2 linked regions of the Homo sapiens genome follow. The protein of the gene in region 2 interacts with the protein of the main gene of each other region in a biochemical or structural test. Each region holds a gene or a part of one and is shown on either strand. Other genes may lie near its edges. The genes, in order: ETFA and ETFRF1.

What was found.
Region 1: the proteins of ETFRF1 (region 2) and ETFA form a complex in vitro, tested with the Homo sapiens proteins (one study listed by BioGRID).

Annotation. Positions count from the first base shown.
Region 1 is NC_000015.10:76,214,547-76,217,473, forward strand, and holds the end of ETFA (electron transfer flavoprotein subunit alpha, mitochondrial), read right to left. Parts: intron 2,052-2,927; coding exon 2,013-2,051; 3' UTR 807-2,012; downstream 1-806. UniProt on the Homo sapiens protein: Heterodimeric electron transfer flavoprotein that accepts electrons from several mitochondrial dehydrogenases, including acyl-CoA dehydrogenases, glutaryl-CoA and sarcosine dehydrogenase.
Region 2 is NC_000012.12:25,198,069-25,205,378, forward strand, and holds the end of ETFRF1 (electron transfer flavoprotein regulatory factor 1), read left to right. Parts: exon of another isoform or gene 1-5,764; intron 5,765-5,851; 5' UTR 5,852-5,888; coding exon 5,889-5,939; intron 5,940-6,022; coding exon 6,023-6,244; 3' UTR 6,245-7,075; downstream 7,076-7,310. UniProt on the Homo sapiens protein: Acts as a regulator of the electron transfer flavoprotein by promoting the removal of flavin from the ETF holoenzyme (composed of ETFA and ETFB).

The sequences.
Region 1 (2,927 bases), on a different chromosome or scaffold from region 2:
CTGTCCCTTGAGCTGAGGTGAGGGAGAATCACGTCCTTAGTGAAGTTACCACTCTGAAGCCAGTCTGCCTGGTTTCAAATCCTGACTCTCATTTATAAGCTGTCCGAATTAAGGCAAGTTATATGACCTCTTTGAGCCTCAGCTTCCCCATCTGTAAAAGAGGGATAATAATAGCATCTAACTTACAGGGTGCTGTGAGAACTGAAGGGGTTTAATATGTATAAAGTGCTAGAACAGTGCCTGGTATATAGTAAGCATTATACTTAATGCTATGATGATGATGAGCTGTAAATACTAGTCCAGTGAACAGCTGCTTGGGGCTGAGGCAGGGCAGCCATGACAGGAGGGAGCAAAGGGAGAAAGACCAACCAGTTCAACTCTGAGCCGAGGCACCACCTGGGATGTCCCTCCCTGAGCCAGCACACCTTCTACTGGGGGTGCCTCTGTGGCCATCACCTTTGCCATCTCTCCTGTCCCCCAGTTATAGCATCCAACAGGGATGAGGGGTAAATGGAAAAAATCTTGAGCAAGGTTAGCCCTCTTAGGAAGAACCTCACAGATAAAAACAAGACATAGGAATTACTCTCCCAAAGGTGATTCAAGCCATGTGGCCTTGGCCAAGTCACTTTACCTTCTTCACTTCTCTGTGCTTCAGTATGCCCATCTATACAACAAGGGGTCTGACCAGATAATCACCGGGCTCAGACATTCTAGGATTCTTCTATTCTAACAGACATTACTTGCAAAGAGGCATCATTCTACTGCTCTCCTCTCATCTCATTAAAAGAAGACTGAAATGCCAAAGATACAACTTTTAAAAGTGTTTTATAGCAACTGATTGTGACACAAATCAGAAAGGGTTCACTAGTCAGCTGGGGAAGGGCCCCAGGCTGGTCACACAAAGGCACTCTAGCCACCTCCATCACTTATCACTTCCCTTCTCTTCCCTACTGTCTGCTTGATCCAGGTCACTACTCCTACTTCTGCAGATCTGATTCAGGAGGGCAGCCCTCTTTGTTCTACTCACCTACCTACCCACGCCTTCCTGCAGGCCTGTTCAAAGCCTCACCAGCCTCTGCTCTTGGGCCTGCATCCACACCAGCTGCAGCCCTGGTGACACTCTTGGACCTCAGCTGTGCCCTGGGCAGCAGAATGAGAGTGCCAGAGGTGACTACACAGGCCTGGGTGCTTCCTAAGAGAGCCCAAAAGAAGCCAACAGAAGGCAAAAGAAAGGCTAGAGCATTCTCTGCACAGGATTTTGAATGTTTATAATAACATCAAACTATCTGCTTGCATCAGAGGCCATGCTGTCTCAAAGCAGCCCCTCCTCCACTCTCCCTCCTTTACAGACAAAAGTCCTATAAACTGACAAAACCTTAAAATTAAACGGAAAATGAAATTTACCTTAAGCCAACTAAATACATGGAGCTGGGTCAGGTTTAAGTCAGGTCTGCTTTTGTCACATTAGCTATGGTCTTCTGAAGACTGGAGTATGTTTAAGATAATATTCATGCTTTATAGCCGTGCTTTTTTAACTCTGCACTTGCCAATTCAGTTACCTTCTCCTATGAAGTTTGCCCTTCAACAATGAGATTAGTAGGTTGATTAGGCTGGTGGAGACAATCATGTTTACAATCTTCCTAAAACATAGAGCTCTCCATGAACAAGAAAGGCAAAAAAATAAATAAATAAACAAAATTTTTACTCCTTTTCTTCAATTTTCTCTAGAGGCTAGGCATATTTCTGATAGTTTTAAAGCTGTGGAAAAGCTTTATTATAGATTTTAGTACAGAATTTAAAAAGTTCAAACAATAATTGTTTGGAACCACAAATAATTAAAAGGAAACACAGCAATCCCATAAACAAGCATTCTGGCATCTGTTAGAAATTTTCCCTCAAATTATGAAATGTAGCTCTCCATGCTTTCCAATGATTGTTATAATACCCACAAATATCTGTGATTTCAGTGGAATACTTTAACAAAAGTTTTCTTTTTAAGGCATGATCCTGATTCATTTTTTCTTCAATATCTCAGTCATTTCAGGAACTACCTGCAAATAAAAACAAAAAGTAATTAAGCAACTAGAGCCTTCACTGTGATATGGTCACAGCTCCGTAAGCATTACAGGGAGGCCAAAAGAAACAACACAAATCACTGTTGAGGCACGAGGGCCCCCTCCTCTCCACCAGGAACCCCCTGTTCTCCGGTAGTCTCTCTTCCCACCCAGGGCGACTACCCAGGACCCAGGGCTGACAGGGCTTACAGCCCACTCATTGCCTAGGTGCCTTTTGCCTTTTTTTTTTTTTTTTTTTTTTTGAGACAGGCTCTCACTCTGTCACCCAGGCTGCAGTGCAGTGGTACAATTATGGCTCACTGCAGCATCTACCTCCTGGGGTCAATCACTCCTCCCACCTCAGCCTCCCAAGTAGCCACCAACCTGTCTAATTCTTGTAGAGATGGGGTATCGTCATGTTGCCCAGGCTAGTCTCGAACTCCTGGGCTCAAGTGATCTGCCTGCCTCAGCCTCCCAAAGTGTTGAGATTACAGGCGTGAACCACTGCACACACTGCTACCTTTTGGCTTTGTGACCCAACCACAAATTTCAAGAAGGCACCCTAGAAACAGGAAGCCCAATTTTTCTTGTCTGGGTGAAGAGTACTGTGTATTTACCTTCATGTTTTGCTTGGCATTCTTCCCACCCTTAACTGCATTCCTGACTTTCCTTCCAAGTCCACACCAAAGTCTCTAGCTTACTGCAATTATGACTCCTGCCAACCTCCTTTATACTTGTTCTCTCACTGTTCGTTCATTCATTCATTGTTCATTTCACAAACATATTGGTTGCTTTTTCAGCAGCATGCTACTATCATCTGGCACACAGAAATGTGCTACATGCTGAACATTCAATATCATCACTCTTTATTAA
Region 2 (7,310 bases):
CACCCTGAAATTGGAAGTGGACTACATGAAAGCTATTTGAGAAACACCTCTAAGTAACTCTACCCCCTTACTCCCATAGAAGACTAGAGGTTTATTTCTGGACAAAGTAATACTAGTCCCTGGACTGGGGCATCCTCAGGCATTCTAGAGAAGCACACTGGAAACAAAGTTAAGTGAATTTAGGAATACATAATGCTGGATGCAGGGCCCGCATTCCTCTTATCCTTAGAAGACTGGAAGACTCAACTCTGAGGAACTGACCAGCCCAGGAGGAGCAATCCAAGATAGTGACATCAGAGGTTCCCCAGTAAAGGCCCACCCAGAGCACCCTAAGTGAAGCCCAGAGTCTATATGCTTCACCCACGTATACAGATCTAAAAAGCTTTTTTGTCTTTTCATTCATAAGAGTAGACAGAAAAGAATGACCAGACTTTGGAAGAAAGCTCAGAAGTGATAGAGACAGAAGCAAGCAGAAAAGCAATTTGAAGTAAAACAGCTCAGAAGTGATAAGAGACAAAAGCAAGCAGAAAAGCAATTTGAAGTAAAACAACAGAAAATTTCAAGAAAGCAAGAATCAGTGAACTTGGAAAGAAAAAATGCCTACATAATATGCTTGTTATGTGAATTAGCTCATTAACTAGTAGTAAGTACAATTTAACAAGTATTAATGTAGAAGTATTTTTTTCCCTAGGAAAGAGGAGCCAGAAAAGCAGTAAATGTATGACCTTCAGTTAAGAAAAGGTCATGGCTTCACTGCTATGCTGGCGGCAAGTGTCTTTCAGATTTTTTCATTGATTCAAGTGTATATTCCAGGGTTCCTTCCCCAGAGAGGCATACCCCAAGTTCTGTGTAGCCATCGACTGAGGACAGGTAGAGTCACCTATCCTACCCACGAATTGGCAGCCTTGTGGTTTAGATGGATTTCTACTTCCATGTGTTATTTCAGCATCTCTTAGCTCTGTTCTTAGACTTTGGCTGGCATTTCTATTATTTTTTTAAGTTTTGCTGAAGTAGAATTGACACTGAATTACACTTACAAAGTATAATTCGATAAATTTGGTTCATATATATACACATCTATATATGCATATTTATAGATATATATGTGCTATAATATATACTACATATAGTATAATATATAGTATACATATTTTTGTTTCCATAGAAACAAAAATAAAAGGAATTACTATGTACTATATACTATATATATCTACTATATACTACGTAGTATGTACTACATAGTACATATAGTACATATAGTACATACTGTACTATGTAGTATATAGTAATATATATAGTACATAACTATATATGTACTACATAGTACATACTATGTAGTATATGGTAGATATATATACCATAGTATACTATATACTAAAAATGGCTGGCTACCTCTGTTTGTCAATATATATTTTAATATATTTTTGCAAGTAATAGAAATGCCAGCAAAAGTCTAAGAACAGGGCTAAGTGGTGGGAAAACTACATACTATATACTATATAGTATCTATACTAATTATATAGATTTGTATATATACATATATGTATACATACACACACACACACACACACACACACACAATGAAGCCATCACCACAATCAAGACAATAAATATATCCACTATCCACAAAGGTTGCCTTGTGCATCTTTGATTCCTTCCTGGTCTCCAGCCCCTACTCCCATTCCCAGGCTACTCTATTATAATTTTTGAGTATTTTTAACATCTCTATAGTAGTCTCCAGCTATGCTGAGAGCAATCTGAGTGGTCAAAATTAACTGTCCAGGAAGAGCAGAAATGAACAACTCAGTAGAACACTTGGAAGAAGAAAATGAGAAAATCCCCCATACAACTAAATAAAAGGCTGGGCGCAGAGGCACACACCTGTTATCCCAGCACTTTGGGAAACCAAGGAGAGTGGATCACCTCAGGTCAGGAGTTCGAGACCAGCCTGGCCAACATGGTGAAAAGCCATCTCTACTAAAAATACATAAATTAGCCATGCTTAGTGGCAGGCACCTGTAATTCCAGCTACTTGGGAGGCTGAGGCAGGAGAATCACTTGAACCCAGGAGGCGGAGGTTGCAATGAGTTGAGATCAGGCCATTGCTCTCCAGCGTGGGTGATAAGAGCGAAACTCCATGCTTAAAAAAAAAAGACAAATGGAAAATAGTACAGAAAAAAGGAAGAGAACATGTTTAGAAGTTCAAACATCCAAATAATAAAAGTTCCAGGAAGGGAGAAAAAAGAAAATGGAGGAGGGAGGAAATCATGAATGAAATCATTTAAAATTTTTTCCCAAATTGAAGGAAACAAGTGTCCAGATTGCAAGGGCCAACTGAGTGTCCAGTACAATGGATAAAAATAAATCCATTATCAACACATCACTAACATTTCAAAATCTTCATGGAGAAGATTCTGTAAGTTTCTGGGGAGAGAGAGAAAAAATACATCACATACAGAGGATCACTTACCAGGACTGCTTTGAACTTAATAGCAATGGTAAAAGCAAACAGACGAGCAACTACTTCAAAATGTTGAAAAGAAAATTATTTCCAGCTTTCAATTCTATACTCAGACAAGCTATCAAACAGATAGAGGGAGCCAGCCATTTTTAGACATCCAGGGTCTCATTTACCTTCCATGTACCCTTTTCAAGAAGTTAGGATGTGCTCCACAGAAACAAAAATAAAACCAGGAAATGGAACACTTTGGAATGTAGAAAATGGGATAATCAACATAGAGGATAGGCAAGAGGAATTTCTGGGAGCATGGTCAAGTAGGATTCCAGCACCACAGTTGTGCTTCTTGATGTAGAGAGCAGTCAGTCCAGAATCAAGCAGCATGACTCACATTGATGGCTATTATCACTAAGATCCCTGCTGCCATTGTATCATCTTTTTAATCTGAGGACATTATGCCCAGGCAAGCCTGGCTCAGATTCTTACCGGTATTTGCCTTGTCTTGACCATGTGGTGATGAAATTCCTGCTCTCTTCTGTGCTGTGCTGACTGGACCAACTGAGGACACTCATTTTTACCCTTCTTTTTCAACCTATTCCTGAAAGCTGATGTTGGGCGTTGGTGAGCTTAAAGCAGAAAATAGCCTTCCTCCTTCCCATTTTTGCTATGTATTGGCCAGAAATCAGGTATCAATTCTACACTTTGATCTTTCCACATGCTTCAGTTGTGAGGAGCCCAGTATTCACTCATGACATTGCAAATTAACTTCTCTAGAAGGGATCCAGAAAGCCTGGAGAAGGTAAAGCCAGACTAGGGCTGTTTGGCTTTAATTAACAGCAGCATTGTTGCCCTTTTCCTTGCTAGATTCGTGCTTGCTGCTCAAATTGCCAAAATTAAATATTTAGGGCAATGTTCATGAGTGCTGGGAAAACTAAAGAGAATAAGCAGGAAGTCATTAGAGGCTATCTTGGTAGAGATGGGGAAGGAGAAGCAATTGGAGAGGGGCACATGGGGGCTTCTAAGACTTTTGTTTCATAACTTGAATGATGGGTACCCAGATGTATATTTTACTTTAATTTGTACATTCATATTTTATGCAGTTTCTATGTCTAATACGTATAAAAATTTCAGATTAAATGAAATACATGAAGGCACTGGCACCCTGCCTTTCAAATTGTAAAAGGTGTAAATTTTGCAAAATGCCTAAAGGGGCAGGTGAGGTCACAATGAGAATCTACACTATTGTACTTCGGGGTTCAACCCAAACAGAAGTTAACAGGAGAACTTAAATTATGTAGCGCATGATTTTTAATTGAGTATGGTACTGTAATTTTAATCCACATTTTCTGCTAGTTAACTATAAAATAACCCTTAAAACTGATCTAAAAGCCTATTTTAAAAATATAAGTTGCGGCCGGGCACGGTGGCTCACGCCTGTAATCCCAGCACTTTGGGAGGCCAAGGTGGGTGGATCACAAGGTGAGGAGATCAAGACCATCCCGGCCAACATGGTGAAACCCCGTCTCTACTGAAATACAAAAAAAAAAAAAAAAAAAATTAGCCAGGCGTGGTGGCGCGCACACGTAGTCCCAGCTTACTGGGGAGACTGAGGCAGGGGAATTGCTTGAACCAGGGAGGTGGAGGTTGCAGTGAGCTGAGATGGCACCACTGCACTCCAGCTTGGGGACAGAGCAAGAATCCATCTCAAAAAAAAAAAAGTTGCTTCCTGCTTGCCTATCAGAGTAATTCAGTCCAAAAGTCATTACGTGGGGCTGAGCAAGGCAGGCATCTGGGGAAGGTGGGGGCGAGAGAAAGGCTGGCAAGGTAGTAGCCCAGCAGGGGATACTGGAGCCCAAATGCAGTGAGGAGGGCCTCTGGGGGTAGGGACTTGTGCACAGCAGCAGCCTAGCAGGGGATGAGGAGGGCATCCTATTAGGGTGAAGGAAATGGTGGCACAGGTTTTTGGAATGGGAACAAAAGGTGAGCCTTACCCAGGAGGGAGGAAATGGTGCAGTGTAAGTTGCTTGAGCCCAAGAAGGGTAGGTTGGGGGAAAGGGGGAAGAGAAGACCATGCATGTGGGATGGTGGCAGTGGCACTCTGGCATTAGGTGGCAGAGCTCAGAGAGTAGAGTGTGTGCGCCGAATGGTGACAGCAAGAGGATTTTGATTACATAGTGAGAGAAGGGGTGATGATTATAAAAAGTAAATTTATTAAGGACAAGTGGGAACCAGACTTCTCACTGTTCAGCAAGAGTATTAAACCCATGTAAAGAGGGGAAATGAAAATAAACCCTGTAGTATTGGAATTGAATGTTAGGTAGCAGATTATATGGAGATTAATATAAAAGTCATACACACATACAACACCTAAATCCGTATGTATATACACTTGCAGCTTTGTCACTTAGAGGACCTGGGAACAGTGACAGTCCCATGGTGATTAGCATTTTTAGCACCCAGACCTTGGTTTCTAAAGCATTCCATCCAGATTATAGTTTCTAAATGCTATTCTCCATTAAAAGGACTAGGTTCCTTGGAGAAATAATTTTACAATGGACAATCTTAGCAAATACATTAATTGGGTAATCAAAGTTATCAATCACAATGGAACAAATTGCAGTTGCATCCACCTGATAGGATGCAATGTTAAGAGCTTACTATTCAACTCTAACAGGTAGTGGGAATTATTTTCTAGGTTTAGACTGTCATGATGCCTTTAAGTTTGGAGCCTCCTCTACAAAGTAGAGTTAACACATTACACATAAAGAAGCATGATTTTGCCTGTTCCTCAGGGACACCCTCTTACAGGTTGTTCATTTGGCCTCTTCACCACCAATCTTACTGCCCATCTACTATTCCAACCTGCTTAACTCACCCAGTTTCTGCTAGTTTTCAGCCTCCCTTTGGATAAGCACCCATCAGCATTTGATCAGGCTTCTGCTCAATGTCCTTCAAGTGGCTCTGGCCTTGCCTTGAGAGCAGGGTAAAGATAATCTCTTGTTTGTTGATAAGGAAAACTCAGGCTCAGCAAGGTTAATTAATCTGTACATTATGCAACTGGAATTTAAATCTAGTTTAACTCATTCCACTGTGGCATAAAAGGAGGTACACGTACCTATCTGTGATGACAATCCACTTTCTCATTTCCTTCATGTGACTTCTCACAATCACAATTGTCTTTGCTTATGTCTCCCATAGGAAAACGTCAATTATGACAGCAGGTAATTTTATCGGAAGTGTTTATAACTATATCCCAGTACGTGGAACGAAAAAGTTATCAAGAAATATTTATTGAATGTAAAAAAGGTTACCATTTTCTCAATGTGTATAACCTTTTTTTATTTTTTTAAGACTACAATGCAGCTAATTGCAAAAAAATTTTCCTTTCTTTAGGTATGTTATGCATAAAAGTGGATAATTTACATGATAAATGAAAATGGCCAATTCTTTAAGAGGAGAAGTACTAAAACTTTATAAAAATGTAAGTAATTATGTTGCCAATTTTATAAAAATGTTATTATATGACATGGATTGTTTAGAAATATATAATCTTTCTTTTTGAAGCTGCTGTATCTTGGACGAGACTATCCAAAAGGAGCAGACTATTTTAAAAAGCGTTTGAAGAACATTTTCCTTAAAAACAAAGATGTGAAGAATCCAGAGAAGATCAAAGAACTTATTGCACAGGGCGAATTTGTAATGAAAGAGCTAGAAGCTTTGTACTTCCTTAGGAAATACAGAGCTATGAAACAACGCTATTATTCAGATACCAACAAAACTAATTGATCATTACTACTTTAATTTAGCTATCAGTGCCAGCTGTTTATGTATACCAGATGTTGTAAAATAATTCTAACTTAAAATGGGAAGATATACATGTTGTGTAAAAAATCCCTGAGCTGCCCTACTGAACTAAATAGGTTTCAACTTCTGTTCATACGGAGAAAGTATCAGCAACTTTATGCTCAATTTTGATACAAACATAGCAATTTAGCTATACTACCGATCATAAATTAATGAGCACCCAATTTTGAATGAAAATATAATACACTTAATCCTCTAACTTAATAGGACTTAGCCAATTATTTTTAGCTTATTTCTCCATTTTACTGACAAGAGAATGCCATTTACCGAACATTTAATAAGCAAAATAATTTCTTACACACTTACTTCTCTTAACTTTTGAAAGGAATCCCTTATTTTTTCACCCAATTTGGTATATTAACAGCACATACTCAAGGTTCACTACAAAACAAACAGTTCCTGGTAATGATTTAAATGTAGTTATAGAAATAAATAATATGTATGGAGTCATTACTTCTGACCTTGAAATAGCCTGCTGGTGACTGGCATTAACATACATAACTAACTATTCAATTATTTCCATTATTAATGTTGCTGCTGCTACCTTTGGGCCTAAAACCAAGTCACCTGTTGTGTATCAATTACCTTCTTTGATAAAAGGAAATAAATAAATAATGTTATCCTATTTTTTTGTCATAAAGGCAGATTTGTTTTGCATCTACTTCTAAATATGGTTTTAAGTTTAAGCAAACACGCCTTTACATAATATCCACAGCACCTTTTAGAAATAAAGGATACTTCTAACAAGCTGCATAAAAGATTCACTGGTATACTATAGTGTCTATGGCTTATAAAGTATTCCATATCCATTTCGGGGCAAACAGTTCAAATTTCATGAATAAATACACACTCATAGTCACTGTAACTATTTTTATTACATTACAATAATTAGGAGTAGTACAGTTCATGACAAAAATATTACAAATTTTAGATCACTTCACAGCACATACTCCTATAAACATTTAAAAGTTAATTTCAATTAAAAGAG